4 linked regions of the Homo sapiens genome follow. The protein of the gene in region 1 interacts with the protein of each later gene in a biochemical or structural test. Each region holds a gene or a part of one and is shown in the gene's direction. Other genes may lie near its edges.

Evidence for each region.
Region 2: the proteins of CYP3A4 (region 1) and UGT2B7 interact in far-western blotting, tested with the Homo sapiens proteins (one study listed by BioGRID).
Region 3: the proteins of CYP3A4 (region 1) and POR form a complex in vitro, tested with the Homo sapiens proteins (one study listed by BioGRID).
Region 4: the proteins of CYP3A4 (region 1) and CYB5A form a complex in vitro, tested with the Homo sapiens proteins (one study listed by BioGRID).

Annotation. Positions count from the first base shown.
Region 1 is NC_000007.14:99,781,163-99,788,938, reverse strand, and holds the start of CYP3A4 (cytochrome P450 3A4), read left to right. Parts: upstream 1-4,754; 5' UTR 4,755-4,857; coding exon 4,858-4,928; intron 4,929-7,776.
Region 2 is NC_000004.12:69,106,448-69,113,473, forward strand, and holds the end of UGT2B7 (UDP-glucuronosyltransferase 2B7 isoform 1 precursor), read left to right. Parts: intron 1-727; coding exon 728-815; intron 816-1,655; coding exon 1,656-1,875; intron 1,876-6,009; coding exon 6,010-6,289; 3' UTR 6,290-6,540; downstream 6,541-7,026. UniProt on the Homo sapiens protein: UDP-glucuronosyltransferase (UGT) that catalyzes phase II biotransformation reactions in which lipophilic substrates are conjugated with glucuronic acid to increase the metabolite's water solubility, thereby facilitating excretion into either the urine or bile.
Region 3 is NC_000007.14:75,918,150-75,925,175, forward strand, and holds part of POR (NADPH--cytochrome P450 reductase), read left to right. Parts: intron 1-3,952; exon of another isoform or gene 3,953-4,051; intron 4,052-7,026. UniProt on the Homo sapiens protein: This enzyme is required for electron transfer from NADP to cytochrome P450 in microsomes. It can also provide electron transfer to heme oxygenase and cytochrome B5.
Region 4 is NC_000018.10:74,281,951-74,288,976, reverse strand, and holds part of CYB5A (cytochrome b5), read left to right. Parts: intron 1-7,026.

The DNA of each region.
Region 1 (7,776 bases):
GCTAAAGCAATTAGTGATGTAAACTTTAATGGGTCAGTTAACCTTCCTGTGGCTTAGTTTGCTCATCTGTAAAATAGGGATCATAACAGTATCAATACCACATGATTGTTGGACAGATTGAATCAGTTAATGCAGGGGAAGTACTTAGCATGACACGTATTCACTATCATTTCCTGGAGTAAGAGCTGTGTGTGAGTGGGTGTGAGCATGTGTGAAACCTTTTCTCTGCAATCTCAGTTAAGAAACCAATCCAGAATTTAAAGTTCAGGGCCTAAATGGGTGGTTATCTTCTCCCAGTTCCATCCTATCCCACCTTTGCTCTTCCTCCCGCCCACAGGAGCTGTTGGTCCTTGATTGGGCTGGAAGACCTGGTGGACCCTAAGTGATCTATAAGAGGAGAATAGAGAACAGGGAATGTCTTCAAAAATCCTAGAGGGACACAGAGGCTGAGAGGCAGGCAGTCCTGCAGGGGTCTTCTGATTGGGACAAGGAGAACCTTGGTCTTCACAGGCCAATTCTGGTCAGTTTCCCCCATGGACAGATGAGGAAACAGGCCCAGGAATATCCAAGGTCTCACACTTCCCATCTGTCAAGTCTTGTTGATGCTGTTGTATTCATGTCTCTCAAAGGGAGATAGAGTTTAGGGAAGAAAGAAGGATCAACTGTGTCTGATACCACTGGGAGCTTAAGTAAAGGGTTCTTTTACTTCATAGCATTTATCCCAATTTGTAATTCAGTATTATTTGTGTGGCTGTTTGGTGTCTCTTTCTCCTATATGAGTGCTAGCTTCATAAGGGCAAGGATTTTGATTCTTTAATATTTAGTGCTTGCCACATGCCCTGAACACAGCAGGCATACAGGCTAACCAACATACAGTGGCATGAAAGTCATGAAAGTGAGACACCTACCTCCTCCAGTGCCAAGAGAGCATAACCATGCACCTGTCACTCTCCTCAACACCACCCCCAAGCATGAGGCCCAAAAGCATTAGCTAATCCCCTCCTCCAGCCACTAAAACTTAAAGGCCAGGTGTGGTGGCTCCCATCTGAAATCCCAGAACTTCAGGAGACAGCAGCAGGAGGATCACTTGAGGCCAGGAGTTTGAGATCAGCCTGGGCAACATAGCTAGGTCCCATCTGTACTAAAAATTAGCTGGGCGTTGTTGCATGCCTGTAGTCCCAGCTACTAAGGAGGCTGAGGTGGGAGGATCACTTGAGCCCAGGAGGTGGAAACAACAGTAAGCTATAATCACAGCACTGAACTCTAGCCTGGGCAACAGAGTGACACCCTGCCTCAAAACAATTTTAAAAATAAATAAGAGCAAAACTTAGATACCACGTGGTCACCCCAACATGCAAAATCAAGTTTTCCCCTACTGAGAAGAATGGGGACTTGACAGCTGAGTTACAGAGAGATAATCTTCTTCTTCTTTTTTTTTTTTGGTTTACATCCTCAAGATCATGACTTGTGAAATTTGAATCGAATACACATGTAATTCCAGAGCAATGTTGCCTCCGCATACCATCAGCAATTCACTTGGCTACTGGAAGTCAGGATAAGCTTCCCAGAAGAGAGGTACCACTTGGGCTACCAGTATAAAAGGATGAAAATATCAGAGTGATGGTGTTCTTTACAACGTTGAGTCCCTGGACAGCCTGTCCACTGATGCTGATATCTGAGCCTAATGCTTCTCTGAATGTTGAGATTGAACTTTGATCCAATGAAACTAGAACGAGAAAGAAGATAAGTCTTTCATTGTTGATAAGGACATTATGTTTCTCATACTTGTATGATTATTTTTCCTTAGCTGTACTATAATTATCTGCTTATTTGTCTCTGCTCTATGTGCTTAGGGTACAAAGTTGACCAAGACCAACTTTGGTTGGAAGCATAGTACTAAGAGCACAGTACTGAGAGCACAGCTTTAAAAAACATGATGAAGGCTTTAATACAGGAAATGAGCAGGGGAGAGGCATGTGGTGGTTGGATGTATCTTCCTTGACACAGTCAGTGCAGCTCTCAGTAGTCAAGTCCCTACATGTTAGAAGATGTTACCTTCTGTGGAATTAAGTGGCAGAACTTGCCTTCAATTATTTTCCTTTGCAGAACAACACCAACTGCATTAGTTAGGACACAGTGCTGGCTGCATTTAAGTCCCAAGCGATGATTAGTCTCTCACTGTTGGTATAGATTCAAACCAATCAGACCACCTCCTAAAGTTTGTAGGGCAGGTAAATCCTCATCTTAGAATAAAAATCATCTTACCAAGTATGTGTTTTAGAGGCAAGAAGAAAACATATTTGTTTCTGTAAGAGTTTTGTTTAAAAAAAATATAAGAAAGGCTCTCGGTTTAGGTGAGGTAATGAAGTTGTTGATAGTTATCAGATGACACTGGAATCTTTACTTCTCTGAATGTGTTCTGTGCATCTCTCAGTGTGGGAACATAGAGAGGGAGATCCTCCAGCAATGCCACTGATATGGTCAGAAACTGCATCTTTCTTTCTCCCTGCTGAGATGAGATGGAGTCCTTTGTTCTAGAAGACCCATGGTGGTGCCGCTGGGAGTAACCCTTGAGACAGGAACACAAATCCCAACCAATTTGTGGTTGCAGCCTTGAGTCTCACTATTTCCCATAGTGATGCGTAGCAGGGAATGGCAGGTGCACCAGAGCAGGAGAGGACCTAATATCTCCCTTCCTGTTAGCTTTTTATAAAGTTTTATTGTGATCAGTAGCAGTTGGGAAGCTACTTGCAGTCACTGAGCCTCAGTTTCTACATCTGTAAACTGGGGATAGTAGCATGGCCCCTACTTAATGTGCTCAGCAAAGCCACTGAAAGGAGACAGAAATGTATCTAAATTCCCTGGACTTTTATCCTACCTCTCTTGGGGATTGTCACCACCTTCCCATGTTTGTCCTTTTTGGTTTGATGCTTGCTGTCACTTCTTTCCTTAGGTGCCTCTCTGTACGGCTCTTTTATCCCAGGGATTCCAGAGTTACAGCACATGCATACCACCATCCAAGCATGTTTATTTGTCTCCTGCTTCACTAGGCTGTCCCCAAGGAACATGTGGCTCCCGGCACACACCTGGCACAACACTGCACATGACATTCACCCACTTGGCCTTGAATCTGACAAGGAATCTGGCATGATGTTCACCCACTCAGGCCAGGTGCCGAGCAGCCCTGGAGGCTTAGGGGCCAGAGGGATGGGAAAAGGTGTCTTTCTGGGGTGAGTATCAGTTTCTGCAGGAGGGCTGAATGTGAGAAAGAATAAAGAGAGAAGGAAGCGAACAAGCACAGCTTAAACATCGCCTATTTCTATTGAGTTTTAAGAACGCTGTGATTTTGTTTGTCATGCAATCCATTCATCAGGCCAGGCAGACACAGAACTTGGGTGTGAGTGACGATAATGAGCTGATATAATTTTCACACCCTCATCACTGAGATCTCTCCCATCAGGAATGGGTCAGGGAGCTCACAGGTGGCAGCAACTGCTATTACAGGCCTCATCTCTACCAGCTCCTGGGGCCTGCCCTCCTCCCATTAGAAAATCCTCCACTTGTCAAAAAGGAAGCCATTTGCTTTGAACTCCAATTCCACCCCCAAGAGGCTGGGACCATCTTATTGGAGTCCTTGATGCTGTGTGACCTGCAGTGACCACTGCCCCATCATTGCTGGCTGAGGTGGTTGGGGTCCATCTGGCTATCTGGGCAGCTGTTCTCTTCTCTCCTTTCTCTCCTGTTTCCAGACATGCAGTATTTCCAGAGAGAAGGGGCCACTCTTTGGCAAAGAACCTGTCTAACTTGCTATCTATGGCAGGACCTTTGAAGGGTTCACAGGAAGCAGCACAAATTGATACTATTCCACCAAGCCATCAGCTCCATCTCATCCATGCCCTGTCTCTCCTTTAGGGGTCCCCTTGCCAACAGAATCACAGAGGACCAGCCTGAAAGTGCAGAGACAGCAGCTGAGGCACAGCCAAGAGCTCTGGCTGTATTAATGACCTAAGAAGTCACCAGAAAGTCAGAAGGGATGACATGCAGAGGCCCAGCAATCTCAGCTAAGTCAACTCCACCAGCCTTTCTAGTTGCCCACTGTGTGTACAGCACCCTGGTAGGGACCAGAGCCATGACAGGGAATAAGACTAGACTATGCCCTTGAGGAGCTCACCTCTGTTCAGGGAAACAGGCGTGGAAACACAATGGTGGTAAAGAGGAAAGAGGACAATAGGATTGCATGAAGGGGATGGAAAGTGCCCAGGGGAGGAAATGGTTACATCTGTGTGAGGAGTTTGGTGAGGAAAGACTCTAAGAGAAGGCTCTGTCTGTCTGGGTTTGGAAGGATGTGTAGGAGTCTTCTAGGGGGCACAGGCACACTCCAGGCATAGGTAAAGATCTGTAGGTGTGGCTTGTTGGGATGAATTTCAAGTATTTTGGAATGAGGACAGCCATAGAGACAAGGGCAGGAGAGAGGCGATTTAATAGATTTTATGCCAATGGCTCCACTTGAGTTTCTGATAAGAACCCAGAACCCTTGGACTCCCCAGTAACATTGATTGAGTTGTTTATGATACCTCATAGAATATGAACTCAAAGGAGGTCAGTGAGTGGTGTGTGTGTGATTCTTTGCCAACTTCCAAGGTGGAGAAGCCTCTTCCAACTGCAGGCAGAGCACAGGTGGCCCTGCTACTGGCTGCAGCTCCAGCCCTGCCTCCTTCTCTAGCATATAAACAATCCAACAGCCTCACTGAATCACTGCTGTGCAGGGCAGGAAAGCTCCATGCACATAGCCCAGCAAAGAGCAACACAGAGCTGAAAGGAAGACTCAGAGGAGAGAGATAAGTAAGGAAAGTAGTGATGGCTCTCATCCCAGACTTGGCCATGGAAACCTGGCTTCTCCTGGCTGTCAGCCTGGTGCTCCTCTATCTGTGAGTAACTGTCCAGGCTCCTCTTCTCTGTTTCCTTGGACTTGGGGTGCTAATCAGGCCTCTCTTTCCCTTATCTGTTTTGAAGATCAAAAAAGATGTTCAGGCCGGGCGTGGTGGCTTACACCTGTAATCCCAGCACTTTGGGAGGCTAAGGCAAGTGGACTGCCTGAGGTCAGGAGTTCAAGACCAGCCTGGCTAACATGGTGAAACTCTGTCTCTACTAAAAATACAAAAATTAGCTGGGCATGGTGGTGCACGCCTGTATTCCCAGCTACTTGGGAGGCTGAGGCAGGAGAATTGCTTGAACCCGGCAGGCGGAGGTTGCAGTGAGCTGAGATCATGCCAGTGCACTTCAGCCTGGGTGACAGAGTGAGGCTGTCTCAAAAAAAAAAAAAAAAAAAAAAGATGTTCAAGGAGCAGTAGCTTAAGTGTTGGATGCTACAAACATATAGAGGTTATTGTAGATCTTATGCAGCTCTATAAAGGAATAAATAAGCATCTTCCCCATCCATCTTTAGTGGCAAGAAGGGTTTTGGGATAGCATTGATTGAGGATGATCTACTTGACAATAGTTTGGACCCAAGGAGGATAAGGAAGGAAAGTAGTGACGGATCTCATTCCAAACTTGGCTGTGGAAACCTGGCTTCTCCTTACTAAACTAGAATTTGGATTTTACATTTTCCCCTTTATGTTGCAGTAGAAGAGGATGAATCCTCTCACTGGTGGGATCCTGCCATCCTAGAGCAGGTAGAGAGAAGAGTCACTCCCCACTGTGGGTAGTGGAGGCTTCTCACATGTCACATTTCACTTCTACCTCAATTTCACTCTTACTAAGATTTGGGAATCATAATGACAGGAAAATAGAAAATATAAACCTCATTTTAATTCTTTCACAGAAAGGTTAGAAATTCAGTGAGTTGTGGCAACATATTTTCCATCTTCTGACCTTTTAACACTAATTGATATGGCTTAAATTCATTCTATTTTAAACCAGATTTTTTTGGAGATAGTCTATTTCCAACATGTTCCTTCTAGGTGACAAATGAGGGCTGTTAGTTCAGTATTTGTTACAATAAATGTGTGTAAAATAACCTCACCTTTCCAGAATCATGTCAGGAATATGAATCTAATGCACAAATGTATAACTCTATGACAAGATTGCATATATCTTTTAAAATATACCTTCCCAACGTTCATTTTAATACCCCTATTTCAAACAAACCTGCTTAGCAGGTTATGTTAAACGCTCAGGGCAGAGGAGTAAGCAAGACTGTGAGCCAGTGATGACAGCAAAAGCATCCAGGTAGGATCAAAATGGAGTAAGAAAATATTCCTCATCCCTCAGGGTAGAACTCCAAAGAGATATTCATGGGTCCTGGCCCCGTAGTGGAGGTCACTCAAAGGACAAACATGTTTGCATCTCATCTGCTTGAAGCCTGGACACAGAGGCACCATCTGTGTCACTCTGTGTGTGGTCTGCCATGTTGTGGGGTGGTCACTACAGACTCAGGCAGCTGGGCAGACAATACCTTAGCCTTAGATGATGCTGATGCAGCCCAGGAGTCAGAAACTGTAGTGCAGACAATGCCCTCCTTAGGCCAACACAATTAAGTGCAATAGATGACTGGCTTTTCTGTTAGCCTCTTCATTGGAACCAAAAGCAGCATTACTCTACCAAACAGAGGGGAGCTGGAAAGAAACTACACAGTTTGCCCAGCCTAGCCTCTGCCTTGACACGGAACCATGTGAGTCTAGACATTCACCTAGATCATTCCTTGGGGACCAATGCTGCTGACACATTAACTCAATAGTTTGTCCTGGCCTGAGAGGTCATGTAACTTGTAGAAAGTTTAGAAGCAGAGATTAGTGTCATTTATTTGCCATGGCTGTGACAACAAAGGAAGGAACAGGAGTGGGAAAACCCAAGGCCACCCTGGTTTTGGTAGATGGTGCACACGCTTCCACTAACTGTTCTGGGGCAAAGATCCAAATGCACTATTGGGCCTGGCTATGCTGCTTCTGCTGGGTCCCCCAAACATGAGCCTCCACGCCATTTCTCAGTTGTATTTTACCACATATTATCACAGTCACCGGATTTGTACAGAATATTTGGAACCTATACTGTCTTAAGGGCTACCCTTTAAAGAAGAGAAAACAAGGTTTTAATTCAACTGTCTGGAACATTTTATGTTTACTTATGTGGAATACTACATCTTTTGTTATAAACAGGAGGGAATGTGGACATTCGAAGGCCCCTACCTTTTAGCTAAAAGCCCATATGAAGCATATGGATCCATTTATACACACCATGCTTTTCAGCTACATTTTCCTAATTTGCCTCTCTGGGGCCAACCTTGTGGGACTAGCAGATTCATGGTTGAGTTGAAGGATGGTGACCTCTTCCATCAGCTTTTCTTCTTCCTCCAGTCTTCCAACCCTCAGTAACATCAGACTGGGAAGGTCTTCAGACATCCAGAAACCCCAGTTCGGGGAGTTCATACATGACCCATCAAAGATGAGTTGCAAGCAGGCCTGCCTTAGGGAGCACCAGCCTTAATGGGTTTTCCTACAGAGATAGTTGATGGGCAGATGCAATAAACTGACTGCTTTGTGATTGACCACCTTGAGAAAAATTAGCATGTCTGGCTATGTTAGTCTTTTCTTGCATTGTTATAAAGAAATACCAGAGTCTGGGTATTTATAAAGAAAAGGGATTTAATTGTCTCATGGTTCTGCAGGCTGTACAGAAAGCATAGTGACTTCTTCCTCTAGGGAGGTCTCAGGAAATTTACAATCATGGCAGAAGGTGAAGGAGAAGCAGACAGATCTTACATGGCTGGAGCAGAAG
Region 2 (7,026 bases), on another chromosome or scaffold:
TGCATAATATTCTGTAGTGTATATGTACCATATTTTCTCTATTCAGCCCATAATCAATGGGCATTTAGGTTGATTCCATGTCGTTGCTATTGTGAAAAGTACTGCAATTAATACACCTGTGCATGGGTCTTTATAAAAGAACCATTTATAGTCCGTTGGTTATATACCCAGTAATGGGATTGCTGGGTTTCATGGTATTTTTACCTCTAGGTTTTTGAGGAATCGCCAGTCTTCCACAATGGTTGAACAAACTTACATTCCCACCAACAGATTATAAGCAAGCCTTTTCTATACTACCTCACCAGTATCATGATATTTTTTGAGTTTTTAATAATAGCCATTCTGACTGGTGTGAGATGCTATCTCATTATGGTTTTGATTTGCATTTCTCTAATGATGTTAAGCTTTTTTCTTTTTTTTTTTCATATGATGGTTGGCCACACGTAGGTTTTCTTTTAAAAGGTGTAACAATTTTTTAAATGCTTGAAATTTTCATTGATAATCTGATTTTTTCTAAGGTACTATTTTGGAAAATCATGATTTCCTTATATACCTAACTAATTATAAAAGTTGAGAAAATTAATGTGAGTATTCTATTTACATTAGTCTTTGAGTAGTTCTTATTTACTAACATCCCTTGATCTCATTCCTACTCTTTATACAGTTCTCACATTCTATAACTTTTGAATTCCACTCATGGAATAAAATATTTTCTTTATTGTAACAGGTTCTGTGGAGATTTGATGGGAATAAACCAGATACCTTAGGTCTCAATACTCGGCTCTACAAGTGGATACCCCAGAATGACCTTCTAGGTAAGACTCTGGTGAACAAATACTGAATATATTAGTAACAGCACATTAGAGTGTTAATAGTTCATCATGAAACAAGCTTATTGAATATTTGTTAAGGAAAAACAAAATGTAACTTCTTTATATTGATTTTCCAGTCTTAAGGGAGAAAGAATACATTATAATTTTTGGCATTTTATGATATACACCCACATTCTTTATAGTCTGAATCGGGGGAATCTTTATTTCAGGTGTTATTATATCTCACAAAATTTTTCAATAACTTCCTGGGCTGTCTCTCTGTCTCCTATTTCTACAACTTTACACCTGTTTTTTTCCTCTCCCGCAGGGTTATTTGAAATGCCACTAAAAATAATAGCTCTTCTATCACCAGTGACTCTGTATTTTCTGAAGAATTAAACTGCTAATCTTAATCATACAGTGATGATACATTTCACGATGAAGTGTGACCTGTCCTTCCTCAATCCTAGCACCACCACCAAACCACTGCCTGCTGCCTTGCCCACCCCATATATCACACTCTGTGACTGCACTTAAAATAAGAGTTCACTTCATGCCTATCTCTTTGCTGTCTTCTTTTTTGCACATTTTTGAAATCTAGAATGCAATTTTTCATTAGCCCAACTGGAAATCTTGTATTGTTTTGCAGTCTGAAGTCACACACACCGTATAGCCTTCAGTTACATACCCAGTACAAGTACGTGTTTTTTCCTCCGAAGTCTGAAACACAATTTTAATTTAGTTCAGTGTTTTAGCTGGAAAACACTGTCACTTTCAGAGCCTTTCATTGTGCATCTCATTTTATTCCTATGAGTAATTTTGCTAAAATTCATCCAATCCTAGGTCATCCAAAGACCAGAGCTTTTATAACTCATGGTGGAGCCAATGGCATCTACGAGGCAATCTACCATGGGATCCCTATGGTGGGGATTCCATTGTTTGCCGATCAACCTGATAACATTGCTCACATGAAGGCCAGGGGAGCAGCTGTTAGAGTGGACTTCAACACAATGTCGAGTACAGACTTGCTGAATGCATTGAAGAGAGTAATTAATGATCCTTCGTGAGTAGAACAATATTTTTCACTAGGTGGTATTTACAGATAGCTTCTCTTGTCAATAGTGAGTGTGAGTTTCATCCTTTTTATAAGAGACTAATTTTGAAAGAATTTAAATGATTTAACCAATCTGAAATCTGCTTTTATTTTTATAAGTTATTTAAAAATTGAATTTGAAACACATACATCTAAAGAATAGCCAGTTAGTGAAACAATTTTCTACACAAAAATAATTTTAAAAGGATATAGATAATACAAAAAATACATTTCTTAAAAATTTGACATAATTAATCCATAGAAGAAAGGAAGAATAAACCTGAAATAATATAATAAAATATTTTAATTAGATATCTAAAACACCTCAGAGTATAACCATTTTCTTGCTGAAAAATTAACTTTTATTATTATCATTATTGTAACAGACTTGAAAATGAGATTTAATTTTGATAGCATAAAACCCCCCTGTTTATGTTATAAAATCCAAATATATTTAGTATGTTTACAGAGCCATGAAGCCATCACTATTACATAATTTTAGAACATTTTTATCAACACAAAAGAAACTGCAATGACACAGAAGTCACTTCCTATGACCGCTTAGCCCTGGTCTAACTAATTTGTTTCCTTTCTCTATAGATTATTCTCTTTAGATATTTCATATGAATGGAATCATACAGTTTAGGGTGTTGTGAAATGACATTTCACCTAGGCTAATTTTTTGTTGTTTTTTTTTTCTGGTTTTAGTTTCATTCATGTTGTTGTGTGTTTTAATACTTCATTTCTTTTTATAGCAGTTTAATATTTTTTAGTAAAGATATGTCATATTTTAGTTGTTCACTTATCAGTTCATTGGCCTTTTGATTGTTTTCAATTGTGGCTATTAGGAAGATTGCTACACATGTTTTTGCATAAACATGTTTTCCTTTCTTTAGGGTTGATACTATAAGTGGAATTGCTGCTTCATGTGGGAACTGTATGTTTATGAAGAACTGCTAAACTGTCTTCCAAAGTACTTGTTTCATTCATGACTACCACCAGCAGTACAACATGGTTCCAATTCCTCCATACTTTTGCCAAACCTGTTATTCCCTGACTTTTTGTTACAGCCTTCTTAGTGGGTGTAAAATGATCTCTCATCCTGGTCTTGGATTGCATTTTCATTACGGCTAAAGGTGTTGAGAATCTTCATACGTGCCTACTGATCATTCATATATCTTCTTTGAAAACAGTCTATCCAATCCTTGGAACATTTTTAAACTTTGCTATTTGTCTTATTATTAAGTTTAAGAACTATTTATATATTATGGGTCATGTCAGATATATAACTTGTAAATATTTTGTCCCACTCTGGGTGCACTAAATTTTACTTTTTGATGTTGGTCTTTGAAGCACAAAAAATATAATTTTAAGTTAAATTTTTAATAATTGATTTTTTCAAACCCAAAGATATCAATGTGCAAAATTCCTTGTGGAGTCCAGCTACCATCAATTCAGCATTTATAGCTACTATCAATAATGTTTTTTTATATAAGCAGGGTATCATCTAAAGGAATACTTGAAAAATACTTTATCACAAAAAAAGAAGGATAATGAATGATAAAAATACCTTTAAAGAAGATAGGAAATAATTGAAAAAGAACACAAACCAGCTTGGACAAATAGAAAAAAAATATATAAAGCAAATTGGTAGATTTAAATATGATTATACAAATACTTTCACTCAATCTAAACAGACTTTAGAAAAGAGCAAGTAATTAGTAAAGACATAAAACATTTGAAGAACACAATTAACAAATGGAATCTTATAATGTAAAATGATACAAACGCACATACATACACACACAATAAACATATATGTATCATATATATCAACTTGAAGACACATTTTCCTAGAGCATGTCGAATAGTTATCTGAAGTGATATGTGGTGGGCAATAAATCAAGATTTAGTACATATAATAAGGTTCAATATCATAAAGACTATATGATCCAGCCATAGTGGAAGTAAGGGAGGTTATAAAAACTATAACTAACATATCTTTAAATTTTAGAGATCAAGAGGTGAATCACAACTATGTCTCCACTTTTATCTCAACAATTCTACTCCCAGTTATATACCCAACAGATATGTATAAATAAATCTAATACCATATAGAAGAATATTTATGACAGAATTATCAATATTGTCCAAAAATTGTTAGCAACCCAAATATCTATTAATCATAAAATGAAGACATAATCTGTGCTTTATCAATCAACAGAATACTACACAGCAATGGAATTACCCAACAACTGCTACATTAAAAAAAGACACTAATGAGTACGTATTATATAATTCAATTACATAAACAAGCAAACTAATGTATGCTATTCGAAGTCAGGCTAATCCTTAGTTGGTGGACAAAAGTGGTGACTAAATGGTTCAGAAAAAGAGAGTTATTCTAGGCAGGTTGTGATATCCTATACCACAATCTGAACAGTAGGTAAATCGATATCTTCACCTCAAGATAATGTTCAAGATGATCTTACATTTTTGAACTATTCACTTAGTGTATGAATATTTATCTTTTGTATTTAATATTTAAATGTTTATTTTATGAGATATATAATGCATTTTAAAATTCTAGGACTCAAATAGCAAAATAAGCACAGAAAATAGAGAAAATCCTAGTGGTTCCATCATAATGTGGCCAGTAAAAGCCTCTCTTAGAGGTAACATTAGAAGGAAGCCACAAGAAGGGAGAGAAGCATTCCTTGGGTTGTAGCAAGAGAGAGTACTCCAAGAGCGGGAGAGAGGGGAAAAAAATGTGTAAGGTACTAAGATGAGAACACCTTTGGGAGCTTAAAGTAAAATAGAAGGCCAATCTAGAAGACAGTGTGCAGGGGAAAAGTGTTAGGAAAAGAGTTTGCCCGTGTCTAAAAATGTAGGGTTCTGTAGACCAAATAACAGAGTTGGATTTTATTCTAAAAATAATGAGAAGCCAGGCAAAAGTCTTAATCAGGGGAGTGCTTTAAACTGACTTTAATTGAAAAAATCATTCTGGCTACAGGGTGGGAAAGAGTAGGAGACAAAAGAGTAATGTAGAAGCAAAGTGACTAGCTATGAGGCACGTCACTCACCATGACACAATTACTTTTTCGGAACTTAGAGATGATAATTCTCATATTGCATTTTCACGATCTTTCTCATAGCACTTAAAAGGGCTCATGATGTTGAGCATGTTCTCCGTATGTCTGTTTGAGAACTAAGAGTGTAATTAGATTGTTCATAATACAAAGGATAAATGCATAAGGGATGAATATCCTATTTTCCATGATGTGATTATTTCATATTGTATCAAAACATCTCATATACCCCATAAATATATACACTTAATATGTACCCTCAAAAACTTAAACAATTAAAAACAAATTAAAAATGCCTTATATTTTCTCTGCTTCAAAAAAAATTAACTTTCTCAGCTAACATTCAATTTCTACTTTAAAAATATTTCTCAATGAGAGAAGTCCAATTTAAAAGCCAAACTTTCTATGATGACTCAAATTAAAATACACAAATTCGATGTCAATTCTTTGACATTTATTTTGAATTATTTGGCCCTTTAAAAGCCTTTCGTAAACTTGATATGGACAGGCAAATTAACTTACTTTCAGTATTAGGGAGGAGACCATGCTTCATATCGTCTTATGCCCAATTTCTGCCTCCAAAGAAAGAAGTAAAAACTAAAAGGCAGAAATGAAATCCACAAGCAGACAGCCCAGTGCCACACCCTGTGCCTGATAGTTAAAGATCGACCCCTGACCTAACCAGTTATGTTATCTATAGATTCCAGACATTGTATGGAAAAGCATTGTAAAAATCCCTGTCCTGTTCTGTTCCATTCTGATTACTGGTGCATGCAGCCCCCAGTTATGTACCCACTGCTTGCTCAATCGATCATGACCCTCTCACGCAGACCCCCTTAGAGTTGTGAGCCCTTAAAAGGGACAGGAATTGCTCACTCAGGGAGTTCAGCTCTTGAGAGAGGAGTCTTGCCGATGCTCCCAGCCGAATAAAACCCTTCCTTCTTTAACTCGGTGTCTGAGGGGTTTTGTCTGTAACTCTTCCTGCTACATTACTGTCTTTATTTTTATCTTTCAGATATAAAGAGAATGTTATGAAATTATCAAGAATTCAACATGATCAACCAGTGAAGCCCCTGGATCGAGCAGTCTTCTGGATTGAATTTGTCATGCGCCACAAAGGAGCTAAACACCTTCGGGTTGCAGCCCACGACCTCACCTGGTTCCAGTACCACTCTTTGGATGTGATTGGGTTCCTGCTGGTCTGTGTGGCAACTGTGATATTTATCGTCACAAAATGTTGTCTGTTTTGTTTCTGGAAGTTTGCTAGAAAAGCAAAGAAGGGAAAAAATGATTAGTTATATCTGAGATTTGAAGCTGGAAAACCTGATAGGTGAGACTACTTCAGTTTATTCCAGCAAGAAAGATTGTGATGCAAGATTTCTTTCTTCCTGAGACAAAAAAAAAAAAAGAAAAAAAAATCTTTTCAAAATTTACTTTGTCAAATAAAAATTTGTTTTTCAGAGATTTACCACCCAGTTCATGGTTAGAAATATTTTGTGGCAATGAAGAAAACACTACGGAAAATAAAAAATAAGATAAAGCCTTATGAGCTCGTATTGAAATTTGTTGAACTTATATTGAAATTTGTTGTTCTAATTCACAGTATACTCACAAAAAAATTTACTCAGCTTAACTATATTTCACACATTGTACATAAACACAAGATCATTAAGAAGTCCACTGACAGTATCAGTACTGTTTTGCACATACTCAGAATAATTTGGCTTCATTTTGAACAGGATTGTATTGTTTTAACTGCTGCTAAAGAAACTATTACATAGTTAAATTGTACAGAAAGTCTCTCTTCCTTTTGATATTTTAAGATGAGTAGTATTGCTTGGCTTTTATAATGCATGCAGCTTTATTCTCATATTTTTCCTAAAATTTATGGCCAAGTGTTTACTGTTTTAGAGCTTAAGTCATTTCTCAGTGGAAATTATGGGGAATTAGAAATACAGCAACTCTTACCTTCTTCCTACTGTAAAATTGAACTATTTTGTAACATCTTTGGTTTCATGAGCCAATTCTATTT
Region 3 (7,026 bases), about 24 Mb from region 1:
TACAAAAATTAGCCGGTGTGGTGGTGTGCACCTGTAATCCCAACTACTCAGGAGGCTGAGGCAGAAGAATCACTTGAACCTGGGAAGCGGAGGTTGCAGTGAGCCGAGATCGTGCTGCTGCACTCCAGCCTGGGTGACAGAGTGAGACTCTGTCTCAGAAAAAAAAACCCAAAAAACAACAACTTGTTTTGCTGTGCAGTTTTGTCATCTGGCATTGGGCAGAAATTTGGACCCGCCGGGCAGGTGGGAGAAGCATCTGAGTCAGAGGTCACTTACCTGCTTGCATAGGCCGCTGACCTATACCAAGCCTTAGTTTCTTCATCACTAAAGTCAGAGAAAGAACCCACTCCACCTGCCTCTGGGACAGCTCAGAACATGTTAACCCTTTCAGCAGTGGGTCCTTCTTCATCTTCTTGGCGCTGTTTGGATCCCTGTAGCGTGACACATAAAAAAGCACACATCCGGCCTTAGGATATGTGTAGGCTCTGGTTTGGGCACTTGAGAACTCTCACAGGGAGGGAAGCAAGCATACAATTCAACAAGAATGGCACGGTGTGTTGCATTCATTCTCAAGATGATGGGGTGAGGCTTTTATTAGTGCTGAGCCTGCTGTTTGTTTCCACAGCAGGGCTCCAGGGGAGAGGTGATGTTTGAGTTGGGTCTTGGAGGATTGCTAGGAGTTCTCTGAGCCCACCCAGGCACACCAGCTCTGGGGGGCATGTAGGGTGTAGATTGCATGAGGCTGAGGTCGCGTGGTGGCACTTGTCTGAAATGGTCCTAGGAACCATGGGAAGAGATGGGGAGGTGTTTTAAAAGGTCAGGGCTATGTGACTAGCTCAGATCAGTGTTGTGTGTTTTTTTTTTTTTTAGACAGAGTCTCACTCTGTCACCCAGGCTGGAGTGCAGTGGTGTGATCTTGGCTCACTGCAACCTCTGTCTCCTGGGTTCAAGCAATTCTTGTGCCTCAGCCTCCCGAGTAGCTAGGATTACAGGCACCGGCCACCATGTCTGGCTCAGGACAGTGTTTTCTTGTACTGAATATTCTCTTACTGCCTAATATCCTCTCTGGGTGAATGAACAACCATTTGGGAAATTTTTACTGTGTCTAAATTTGTAATCATACTGTTTTAGAGCTCTACATCTTAAAAGTTTTTCCTCCCCAAGCGAGATGTTTACATCAGTTGTGTTCTTGTTGGGATTAGTGTGCACACGCCTGTCTGCATCTGTGCGTGCGTGTGTGTGTGTGTGTGTGTGTGTGTATGCATATAAGAGGGAGAGAAGATGGAGGAATTCCATGGGGGCAGACCATGGTTCTTTGCAGATTGGTGGCTCCAGTTGGTTGGGTTCACTGGAGCCACGTTCATCAGTTTGTTTCTTTCTTTCCTTTTCTCTCTCTGTATGTTTATTTATTTATTTATTATTTGTAGAAGTGGGGTCTGGCTATGTTGCCCAGGCTAGTTTCAAACTCCTGGCCTCAAGTGAGCCTCCTATCTCAGCCTCCCAAAACGCTGGGATTACAGGCATGAGCCACCGCGCCCAGCCCAGTAACTGTTACTCCTGACGCTGGTCGGTGTGGCAACTCAGTTGATGCTTGGACGTGTTGTGAACAAAGCCCCGGGGAACCTGATCCTTCTGGTGGCTTGTGCAGCAAACTGTTGATGTGGGAAGCTTATTTATTTCACTTGTTAAAGAGGTGACTTGGATAGGGGGATATCTAAGAATTGTCCTTTCATTGGAGTGCTGGAGGGTGTGGCATTCGGATCTCCTTTGTGCAGCATCTGTACCTAGCTGAGAGAATTGTACACATAATTTCCCGAAATGCGTCAGTTTCAAGGCTAACTTAGAATATGTTGGTGGCCAGACTGTGGTGCTGTCAGCTGTGGACTGTTCTCCAAGAGTTGAATTTCTTTTTTTTTTTTTTTTTTTTTTTTTTTGAGACAGAGTCTGACTCTCTCGCCTAGGCTGGAGTGCAGTGGTGTGATCTTGGCTCACTGCAACCTCTGCCTTCCAGGTTCAAGCAATTCTTCTGCCTCAGCCTCCCAAGTAGCTGGGATTACAGGCGCGTGCCATCACGCCCGGCTAATTTTTTTTTGTATTTTTAGTAGAGATGAGGTTTCACTGTGTTGGCCAGGCTGGTTTCAAACTCCTGACCTCAAGTGATCCACCCGCCTCAGCCTCCCAAAGTGCTAGGATTACCAGGCGTGAGCCACCATGTCCAGCTTATAAGAATTGAATTCTTTAGGAGACATTTGGTAGGAGAATAGAAGGGGGAAAGTTGCCTTTTGTCTACTTGGATGTAGTAATGAGGAGGAAGATGGGGCATTGTGGGGCGTGTCCTCTAACTTGGAACAGATGTAATTTATTTCTAGGTGAAAGTTAAGAACAGTGCTTACTCATTCTATTTATCTGCCCTCCTTTTATCTTCGGCACTTTTTCCTACAGCCCTGTTTCTGAGCTCACGTCACATCACCTCTGCGGTGGTGATGCCGGTGTTCTTAGAGCACTGTGTCCTAGTGATACTTTGATCTTCGTGGGCATGCATCATCAGTGCATTGGGTAAGCCGGGCCTGTACAAAGGTTTGCAGGTTTGGTTAGGAACACGTGAACTACGGTCACCTTTCTGAACTTTCTGAACTCATATGTAGTGACCATAGGTCACCTGGGTTGAGTTTTCAACACTGCAAACAGGGATGGCAGTTCTTGAATACACAGGAGAGTGCATTAGCCAGTGGTGCCCGGCATCATTCAGAGTGCAGTTTGGCATCAGGAATGTTCCGTCAGGTATTTGTGGTCTTGTGGAGAAAAGCCACTGTTGGTTTTGGTGAAGGGCTTCAGACCCTTTGACTGCTCATGAAACCACACAGTCTTAACATGGACACGTTGGACGCGTTCCTTACGTAACGTGATTTGCAAACTCAGGAGTCATTCAGCGTCACAGCAGTGATCAAAAGCTCCCAGCCCATCTACCCGAAACCTCCACAACAAGAGCTCTATCTGTCAGTGGCCTCACCGACTTCCTGGGCCCTGAAGCTCCAAGGACAAAAGACTCCTGTCCCTTTTCCCTTCCTCTCCATTCTGGGTCTCCCACCACCACCAAGTCCTGTAAGTTTTTAGTCTTTTTTTTTTTTTTTTTTTGAGACAGATTCTTGCTCTGTTGTTCAGAGTGCAGTGACACAATCTCAGCTCACTGCAACCTCTGCCTCCCAGGTTCAAGTGATTCTCCTGCCTCAGCTTCCCGAGTAGCTGGGATTATAGGTGCGCGGCACCGCGCCCAGCTAATTTTTGTATTTTTAGTAGAGACAGGGTTTCACTGTGTTGGCCAGGCTGGTCTCGAACTCCTGACCTCAGGCGATCTGCCTGCCTCGGCCTCCCAAAGTGCTGGGATTACAGCAGGCGTGAGCCACCACGCCCGGCCCTTTAAATCTCTTTCCACTGCTGTGGTCTTACTGTAGCCCCTTGTCACTTCCTGCTGCGCTGACCCGTAATTGACCCATAATTCTCCCTCTCTTCCCCTCCCTACCACGTTCCAAGATCTGTCCATGGTACCATTGCTGGTTGATCTTGGAACCCTGCTTCGGTCACCCCTCCTTTCTCTTCGCCCAGACTGGAGTGCAGTGGCACGATTTGGCTCACTGCAACCTCCACCTGTCAGGTTCAAGTGATTCTCCTGCCTCAGCCTCCCGAGTAGCTGGCACTACAGGCACGTGCCTCCACACCTAGCTAATTTTTGTATTTCTAGTAGAGACAGGGTTTCACCATGTTGGCCAGGCCAGTCTCGAACTCCTGGCCTTAAGTGGTCCACCCAGCTCAGCCTCCCAAAGTGCTGGGATAATAGGCAGGAGCCACTGTGCCCGGTCACTGTCACTGTCTTATTGCATGTTTTCTTCTTCATCTGCTTTCATAAAGGATAAACAGTGACTTAATAAAAGGTGTCTAATTCTCCCCTCCCTAGTGGCAATACGGTTGGACTAGAAGGTGAATTCAGTTGAGAACAGGGAACCTATCATTTCTGCGAGTGTAAGCTGGGGCATAGAACAATGCCAGGCATAAGGTAGGCACTTGGATGAATGGATGAATGAATAAATATGGCTTCTGTCCCCCAAGTTTACTGCTGAGCTTTCTCCTGCATATTGACTGAGCTCAGATGTCAAAATTGGGTCTGATCTGTAGTTTTTTTTTTTTTTTTTTTTGAGACAGAGCCTGTCACTCTGTCGCCCAGGCTGGAGTGCAGTGGCGCAATCTTGGCTCACTGCAACCTCTGCCTCCTGGGTTCAAGCAATTCTCGTGCCTCAACCTCCTGAGTAGCTGGAATTATAGGTGTGTGCCATCATGCCTGGCTAATTTTTTGTAATTTTAGTACAGATGGGGTTTCACCATGTTGCCCAGCTGGTCTCGAATGCCTGACCTGAAGCAGTCTGCCCGCCTCGGCCTTCCGAAGTGCTGGGATTACAGGCGTGAGCCACTGCGCCTGGCCTGGTCTGTACTTCTGAAGATTATTCCAAAGTACAGTAGGAACTTTTGGTAGGACTTTAGTTTTCCATCCAGGTATAAAATTTTGTGTCAGTGGTGGGGTTGCGCATGTTCAGTAGCTGCAACACTAGAAAGATGGCAAAGCAGGAGCAAAGAAAAATCCCTTTGGCTCCAGAAAATCTCCTGAAAGCAGAAGGCTTATCAAGGCCTCAAAGCCACCCAGTCAAAGTAGGCACTTTTGGCAAAGGAGGAGCAGAGGGAAGGAAAAGAGCTCAGGTTTAAACGACTGGAATCATTCCTACATGATTCCTGGCGGCAGAAACATGACAAGGTGTGTCTCAGACGACTAGAAGTAAAACCTCACACCTTGGAATCGCCAGATAAACATTCCTTGGCCTTTGTTGTACGCGTCGAAAGGATTGATGGTGTGAGTTTACTGGTGCGGAGAGCCATTGCAAGACTTAAACCTAAAAATGCAGCGTATAGTATGTAACCTTATGTGACCTGGGGATTTCCAAATCTGAAGTCTGTCCAGAAACTCATTTTGAAACGTAGACAAGCCAAGGTCAAGAATAAGACCATCCCTCTGACAACACAGTGATTGAGGAGCACCTGGGAAAGCTTGGTGTCTTTTGCTTGGAAGACCTCATTCATGAAATTGCCTTCCCAAGGAAGCATTTCCAGGAGATCTCATGGTTCTTGTCCCCTTTCCACCTCTCAGTGGACTGTCATGCTACCAAAAATAGTGGACTTTCTGAAGGAGATTGGCACACCTCCATCTTCTTGGGGGTGTGTGCATCAATCAGCTCATCCGCCAGCTGAACTAGAGCCAGGTGCCAAACTACAGTAAATTTTTATCAATGAACTGGAAGCTTGTGTTATTTTTGGGGGCGGGGTGGAATTTTTATCAAGTATCTTCAGAGAAGATTATTTCCTGCTTTATCTTCAAAAACTGTAAAGGAAGGGTCAAAGGAAAGACAGTGGCTGGCCGGGCCCGGTGGCTCACGCCTATAATCCTAGCACTTTGGGAGGCTGAGGCGGGCAGATCACCTGAGGTCGGGAGTTCGAAACCAGCCTGACCAACATGGAGAAACCCCGTCTCTACTAAAAATACAAAAATTAGCTGAGCGTGGTGGCACACGCCTGTAATCCCAGCTACTGGGGAGGCTGAGGCAGGAGAATCGCTTGAACCCGGGAGGCGGAGGTTGTGGTGAGCCAAGATCAGACCTTTGTCCTCCAGCCTGGGCAACAAGAGCGAAACTCCATCTCAAAAAAAAAAAAAAAGAAAAGAAAAGACAGTAGCTTACGTTCATGGCGGCACCTCTCATCACAGTCCAGTTCCAAGGAAAAATTCCAGCGTTTTCTACGTTGGCTGCTGCCTTGTCTGAAATCACATTTTGTGGAGAAAGGAGTCTTGCTTTGTTGCATCTTCTATCCTAGGGTTTAATGTTGGTGAATGAGTAACTCTAGCATTTGTACAAGGCTCCCTAAGAGTCCTGCAGCAGTCGACCAAGCCCGGGGACATAATTGAATCCGGAGATTCCTGGGGCCTTGAAAAAGGCTTGAAATATACATAGGAAGAAAGGCACAAAAATAAATGCTCACTTGTCTCTGCAAAAAAAAAGAAAAGAAAAATTGTGTCTCAAGTTCCTTCTGTAGTTGATAATTTATTCAGTAATCATTTTATAATTGAAGAAGAATATTCTGACTCTAAATCTTTCTAGATCAGTTACCTGGATGCTGAAGACATGAATAAATTTGTTTATTTTAAAAATCCTAGGGCCTGGCACAGTGGCTCATGCTTATAATCTTAGCACTGTGGGAGGCCGAGGTGGACGGATCACTAGAGCCCAGGAATTCAAGACCATCCTGGGCCACATGGCAAAACACCATCTCTATTTAAAAATTAGTGTTTTTAAACATCAGTGTTTAAAAATTAGCTGGGTGTGGTGGTGTGTACCTGTCATCCCAACTACTTGGGAGGCTGAGGTGGGAGGATCACCTGAGCCCAGGGAGGTTGAGGCTGCAGTGAGCCATGATCAGACCACTGCACACCAACCTGGGTGATAGAGTGAGACCCCCATCTCAAAATATACAGTAATAAATGAAAAATAGAAAATTCCCCAAATAAATAAATAATAGAAAATTCTAATGAAAATAAAAGGAGTTGAGTGTAACCGTTGAGTGTCTGCGCTGGGTGTTTATGTCTCATGTAACCAACGTAGCACTGTGAGCATGGTCATCCCGGAGACGGACTGTGATAAATCGTGTGCCCAGGATCCCAGAGTGCATAGGTGGCATATCTAGGTTTTGAACCAAGGTCTGTTGGTCTTTTATAGCTCAACTGGGTTGTGAGTTTGTTGAATTTCACTTTCCATGCTTTCCCCAACCAAACCAAAAACCAGAGGGGGAACTGAAAGCTGAGAGCCTAGTAATTGAGAAAAGGACTCTGGGAGGTGATGGTGTCAAAAAGCAGTCCAGGGAAGCTCTTGTGGTTGAGCACACAGCTCTGCCCAGAGCTTCCTAGATGCCAAGGCAAAGAAGGATGGGGTTACA
Region 4 (7,026 bases), on another chromosome or scaffold:
CTGCCAACATGTGGTTCTGGGAACAAGCAAGGCCACTTAGCCTTTCACTGGATTGTGTCTGACCTCTGGGCACCTCCCGATTCGACCTCTTATGGACGTGTTTTTCCATTTGCCGTCTTTATTATTTGCTTTGACTTTCTGTGACCATCTCTTGCTTATTGCATGTCCTGGTCATTGGCTTCCCAGCCCCCGGCAAAGCCTCTGGGAGCCTCTCTCTGGGTTCTATCTGAGACTCTAGCCAGGATTCCTTGCAGGTGACTTCCTGTGCTCCTGGGGTTATATCTCCAATAAGCTCACTCGCTCAGAGCTCTTCAGCACACTGCCCTGCCAGGTAGTTTGTTATGAGGCTAGTCTGTTTGTCTGAAACGTACTTTTAAAACAGAAATGAGTGCAGAATGTCTCTGTCTCTCTTCCCCGCTTGCCCGATCCTCTTTCCTGTCTTCTATTGTTGAAAGGCTCCAGAATTTCATGAAGCCTTTGTGTGTTAACTAACAAATATTTTATCTCACCTAATTTACCTAAATAGGAAAGATTTATCTTCTCCTTCTAACTCTCAAATGAACTTTCAGTCATTATGGGCTAGACCTTTGTTTACTGTGAGATCCCCCATCCGTATGGACAGGATTTCTCATGGCTGAGTATTTCCCCTTCTTTCAGAATGTCCTAGATTTATGTGCATGTCCGTGTTCATGTTGAGAAGGTGTGTGGTGAGATGGTGGAGGGATCCTGCTCTGCTGGCAGGTACAAGCCAAGAACACAGGTTGAAGCTCACAGGTGCAGCATGTGCTCCGACCTCCTGAAATAATGGCCACTAAAGCTGTTTTTGTTGTTTAGGCGGAGGGGTAGAAACCTAAGAGGGAAGACTGGCTTATTATTAATGGCAGTCGACATAGCAGCAGGTGCTTAGTTACTGTCTGATACTTAAAAGATTTTGAGCTTTATTGCCTACATATTTTGAACTAGATTTTTTTTTCAATCCTGAGTTCTAGTTTTTGAGTTTATATTTGTGAAATTGAGTCTTTGCTTGATCATAGAACTTTAAGGGACAGTTATTTGAAATGAAAACTTAGGCATTTAGGACCAGGGGGAGAAATGTTTGCATTTCCCTTTCTGTGATTTGGGCAGCAGCATCTATTCAGTTTTTAAAAGAGCTGTGGAGGGGAGAGAGAAAGGTATCCTGTAATTAACAACACTTCCATTAGCTGTTGCTTTTGGTTCAAGTCAGTGGGTGTTTGATTCGTGAAATAGATACTGTCCTGGAAAATTTTATAAAGCAGAATGTCTTTTTGTGAAGTTGTCTCCTCTCCCTTTACATCATAAAAATGGAAACTTGCTTCTGTAGAACATTTTCTAGTGTTCCTGGGATTCTGATAGTCTTGGACCTGAGCCTTAAATGTTCTTTACAGCATTCTGCCTCATAGAAGCTATTGGCTCCTGACTCACTTTGATTTTTGGAGTCTTAAAAGTGTCCTTTCTAGCAGGTTTTATTGTAGGGACTTGCTCTTTGTTATTTTCCATTGAACATGGCTGCCTATGTTGCGTAGACCAGTGGTTCTAAGGCTTGGGAATCGAGGAAGAGAGTATGGGTGCTGAAATTCATTGCCCTTAATTTTGAAAAACATAGAACACGTATCTTTACCCTTGTTAAAGCTACCATATTTAGGGCTAAAATACTAAATGCCTTTGCTTTTTGCAAGAAAATTTGATAGTATTCTGAATCTCATGCTACTAAAGGCTGCAGTTGGCAAATATGCCTTTGATGCATGTAAAATGGGAACATTATTATTATTTAATATATACCGTTAGGTAAATAAAACTTAGAAATTACAGAGTCTGTAGAAGGGAAATATAAAGTTATTGTTGGTAGTGTTGGTGGCTTAGGCATCTTGGGTAAAGTGGTAGTAAAACCACATCTTAGAAGGCCACCTGGGGAATGTGAACCCGTGAGGCTTTTGTATATTTCTATATATATCTCTATATTTTTTGGTAACCTGTTGCTACTTTTGAAAAGAGGTTCCAAGAGGCAACTTTGTTTTGAAACAGTAAAGAAAACAGTAAAGAAACAGCAAATTAACTTTTGCTTTTTGATTATCTTAAAGGTTGATGAAAATTGTAAATAAGGAAGGGAAAACACATGCAAGCCGGCTTTGGTCAATCAAGGAATAAATAACATGCACAATTTTACTGAATGTGAATGTCTGGTATTCTGAAAAGTCCTCCTGGTGAAGATGGCTGATAAGTGCCTTTGTAGTTGAGTGGAGTCTGAACAACCCTGTCCCGCTGGGCATTCATGGGAAAGCACTGGGCTGGGGTTAGGAAAACTAGACCTGGTCTTAGACATATCATGGAGGTGACCTTGGGCAAGTCAGGTATTTCTTTCAGTCACTTTCCTTGTTCTGAAGTGGGAACTATTCTGTCACTGCCATCTGCATTGGGAGAAATGATATATGTGAGAACACTGGAAAAAATATGTAGAGAAGGCATTTAAGTGACTATATTTTGATTGAATTAAAATTTTAAAATAAATTGTTTTTATGTGGAAGGTCCATTTAGTAGGAACATATCTCAGGAATTATAGTGTTAACTAGTAAACAAAATGACTCAAAATACAAATATTCACATGAAATATAATTGTTCAGGAATGTGTGCTTTGCAAGATTGGAAATCATCCCATTTCAGGAGCTTTTAAACATACAACTTTATTGTGTAAGGGGAAAATAATACATGATCATGTTAAGGAAGTGGACAGTGTGGAAAACTGCAAAGAAGAAACTCAAAGCTGCCTGGAGCTCTGCTCCCCGAAGGTGGCCAGCTTGAGCAGTTTGCACACTCACTACTACAACACCTTGCTCGTGGATGTGCTTTACATCCATGGAAATGTGCTCTGCATGCTGCTCTGTAATCTCCCTTTTTCCCCACTAAACTAGGTGTTGAGGGACCAGTCCTGAATTTCAGTAACTCCTGTTCCCAGGCTGCCTCCTTATTGTATAGAGGGATCCTAATATACGGAATCCTCTTTCCTTCCATGTTTTTAGGTTCCCACCTGCAATTACCTCCTTATGGTAGATCTTTGTAAGTGGGATTCTTGGGTGAAAGGATGTACACTTCTACTTTTTTTTTTTTTTTTTTTTTTGAGATGGGGTCTTGCTGTGTTGCCCAGGCCGTGGTGTGATCTCAGCTCACTGCAGCCTTGACCTCCTGGGCTCAACCAGTCCTCCCTCTGGAATAGCTGGGACCACAGGCATGAGCCACCATGCCCAGCTAATTTTTGTATTTTTTGTAGAAATGTAGTCTCTTGTTGCCCAGGCTGGTCTCGAACTCCTAGGCTCAAGTGATCTGCCCCCTTTGGCCTCCCAGAGTGCTGGGATTACAGGCATGAGCCACTCTAAATTTTGATGGATGTTACCAGAGCACCCTGGGGTGGCACACCAGTGTGTGCATTTCTCGGTTCTTAGGAGTGGAGGAACTTGGTTGCGCCTCATTCACCTCCCTTCCTGAATTTGGCTGTGTACTTCTGTTAAAAAGGGAAATGTATGGAATAATTTTTTATCCCCTTTAGCTTATAAATTCTCTTAAAAGTGAAGCTGTGGCAAGTAATACCTTGTCTATTCTATGAAAGAATTTCATTGTCTGAAGGCTCAAAGCATCAGAAAAGTGACCGGAGGCAGCAGCTGACTACATGGGAAACTGAGTAGCAGGCTCAGAGCCATTTCTGGAGTCTCAAGAGTGTCCTTTCTAGCAGGTTTTGTTGTAGGGACTTGCTCTTTGTTATTTTCCTTTGAACATGGCTGCCTACATTGCATAGACCAGTGCTTTCCAAGGCTTGGGGATAGAGGAACAGAGTATGGGTGTTGAAATTCATTGCCCTTAATTCTGAAAAACAGAACATTTTAATCAAGTGTGCTTCCTTTCCTATTACCCTTGGACCTAGTTTTCTTGGGAACATAGTCTTGAGTGTATATAGTAACTGGGTATCTGTGCCTTTTACTGAGTTCCAACATGGGGACCGGGAGGGTGAGCTGAAGATTGGGTGGGGACAGCTCCGTTCTTGCTGTTGAATAGAATCTGGCCTGTGCTGCCTGTTGGCTTAGAGCTGACGGCTCTGTGGATGATGGCAAGAAGTTACTTTCTTACATCCGTAGAATTCTGTCTCTAGCAGGCCCATGCCAAAATGATGGCATCTGAACCAGCACTGACGCTGGGGAGGCTCTGGAGGGGGCGAGGGATAAGGGATGTGGACCTAAGGGAAGGGATGGGGTGATTAACAGCCTCTAGGCTCAGTTAAGGGTCCTCTCTGCCTGGCTGGTGGGCACGGGAGCCTGTCTGAAATGGAATCACTTGAACTCTTCTGTAGTTGAGGGCCTGGGGAGTGTCAGTTTGCAGCTTGTTTCTTTCACTGCCTGCTATTGTTTGTTCTTGGCAGACCTATTCATTAAGCTTTGTGCAGCTGTGTCCAGAATTAGCCAGGTCACAAAATATATCCAGACTTCTTTCCCTCGTCTTCCTCAGAAAGTGTTAATTAAGTAAATGCCATTCATTAATCGTCCCCAAGTAAATGCTATTCTTTAATCCTCCCCTCCCCAACAATCCCTAGTGAGCTAATAAGAAAAGTGATAGCAGTGGACGTTGGCTGAATGTTTATGGACATTCAGTATGTGCTAGGGAGTGTGCCAAGTGCTTTTTGCACATAAAACCTTCTTTGCGTTTGTGCTTTTAATCTCTCTTTTTTTTTTTTTTTTTTTTGGAGATGGAGTTTCACTGTTGTTGCCCAGGCTGGAGTGCAATGGTGCAATCTCGGCTCACTGCAACCTTCCACCTCCCAAGTTCAAGCGATTCTCTTGCCTCAGCCTCCCAAGTAGCTGGGATTACAGGCATGCACCACCAGGCTGACTAATTTTGTATTTTCATTAGAGATGAGGTTTCACCATGTTGGTCAGGTTGGTCTCAAACCCCTGACCTCAAGTGATCCACTCGCCTCGGCCTCCCAAAGTGCTAAGATTACAGGTGTGAGCCACTGCGCCCGGCCTGTGCTTTTAATCTTCAAAACAACCCTATGGGGTCAGTGGTGATTGTGTCCTCCCTTTTAAAGGTAAGACGGTATGTCTTAGGGAGATTTTGCAGCTTGCTCAGCAAGTCCCACAGACGATAAGGAGCAAAGCCAGGGCTTCAGTCCAGGCTGCGGGCGCTGCGACCCAGTGTCTTCAGTGCTGAGTCTGTTGCTGAGGCTTGAGATCCAAGGAGTATTGATGAGAACCTAGCGTAGCTTTAAAAGCAAAAGTGCATCCCACTGATACAGAGTTGCTGTCATTTGCTGGAGACCTTGATCACTGGAGAGTTCTCTGGAGGAACCAGGGAGAAAGCAAAGGGAATTTGTGATGCAAATATCTGAACAAAGCCAAAACCCTTGGAAAGTTAATGGACAAAAATATGCCTTTCTTTCCATCTGTTGTCAGTTTACTATGTTGCCTTCTAGGAGGTGAAGGAAACAGCCATTCCTGTTTCTTGTAGAGGAATTTTTAAATAGAGGGAGTCGGGGTGGAGTCTTCACGGCCTCAGTTTGTTTGTGACCCAGATGCTGCTCTCACCTGGCAGGGGCTGAATCATCGGTGTGGTTTTGGTTCGGAAAGAGATTGTTTGCACGTGTAGTGGGTATGTGTGAGGAGGCATGTGTTGTTTGGTGAAAGGCATCTTAAATGACTGCCCTGGGAAGGATTGTTTAAATGGAAATCCGAGGAGGTTCCTGCTCTGATAAATCCCTCAGTGGGTCCCGCTCATCTCTCGCCCTCCCCTTCCGGGTCCATATCCCCTCTGCATGTGCCACGAGGTTGGTTGCAGGGTGGTTAGAATATCTTTCTCCTCCAAGCTGAGAGCAGATGCCCTGGTGTGGCCTCTCTTGTATCTTTGCCACCTCTCATGGTGGCCACTGGGCAGTCAGTTCTCAGGATTTCATTGGTTCCATCAAATGGGTGGTGGTTTTATGAGTTTTCAGCTTGAGTAATAAATGCTATTTATGGCATTGAAAAGTGTGATTTCTAGGAGAAGCACACAAAAAAAACTTGATCTTTTGGAAACAGATTGTCCTTTTTCTGTTCAGTTCCTTTCAATGGCTTCCTGTTGCATTTAGAATAAAATTGTATCTCTTTGCCCTGGTTTGGAAAGCTCTGAATGATCTGGTCCTTACCTACCTCCCCCACCTCAGCAAATAACACTGTGTCCTCCCTGCTAATGCCCACACCTGATCACATTGACCCTTTCTCTTTGTTTCTCAAACAAGCCAAACTTGTTTTTACCTTGAAACCTTTGCCCTGGTTTCCCCTGTGTCAGGCTTGGCCCTGTTCAGGTCTCAGCATGGTGTCCCATCCCGTTTTGTGCCTCTGCTAGCAGTTAGACCCTCCCGGCTGTGATATGCTGCTTTTTCCACGCGATGAGGGCTCCTGCCTGCCCGCCTGCTGTGCACCTGGCCCATGTCCGGTGCCAGGAAGTCACTCTTCCGGGGATGGAAGAGGAGAGCCTGGTGGAGGAACAGATACGAGCCCCTGCTCTGTGACTATCTTATTTTTTTCCCCCTTTTTCCATACACAGTGCATACTAGTGTGATCCCTTCTTACTCTGTGGCCCTTGTCCGGTGCCAGAAAGTAACTTCCCAGGATGGAAGAGGAGAGCCTGGTGGAGAAACAGACACAAGTCCCTGCTCTGTGACTATCTTATTTTACCCCCTTTTTCCACACACGGCACATGCTAGTGTGATCTCTTCTTACTCTGTAGGCCTTGGCCTGGGATTTTGTCCCTGAGGATTGCACAGTTAGAAACTAGTGGGACTGTATTGTGAAAGTCTGGATTGTGACATAGTCTCAGAGCATGGAACACAAGAATGGCATCGAGGGAGGCTCCCAGGCAGTCAGTAGAAGGGAAGAGGAGAATTAAAGGTGAGGGGAGCACTTTGGTCTGCATTTTCCAGTCTCTTCCTGCCCAGAGCCCGGGCCTCCACCTGTGCCTGAGATCCTGTTCCCCTTCCCACTCACAGAC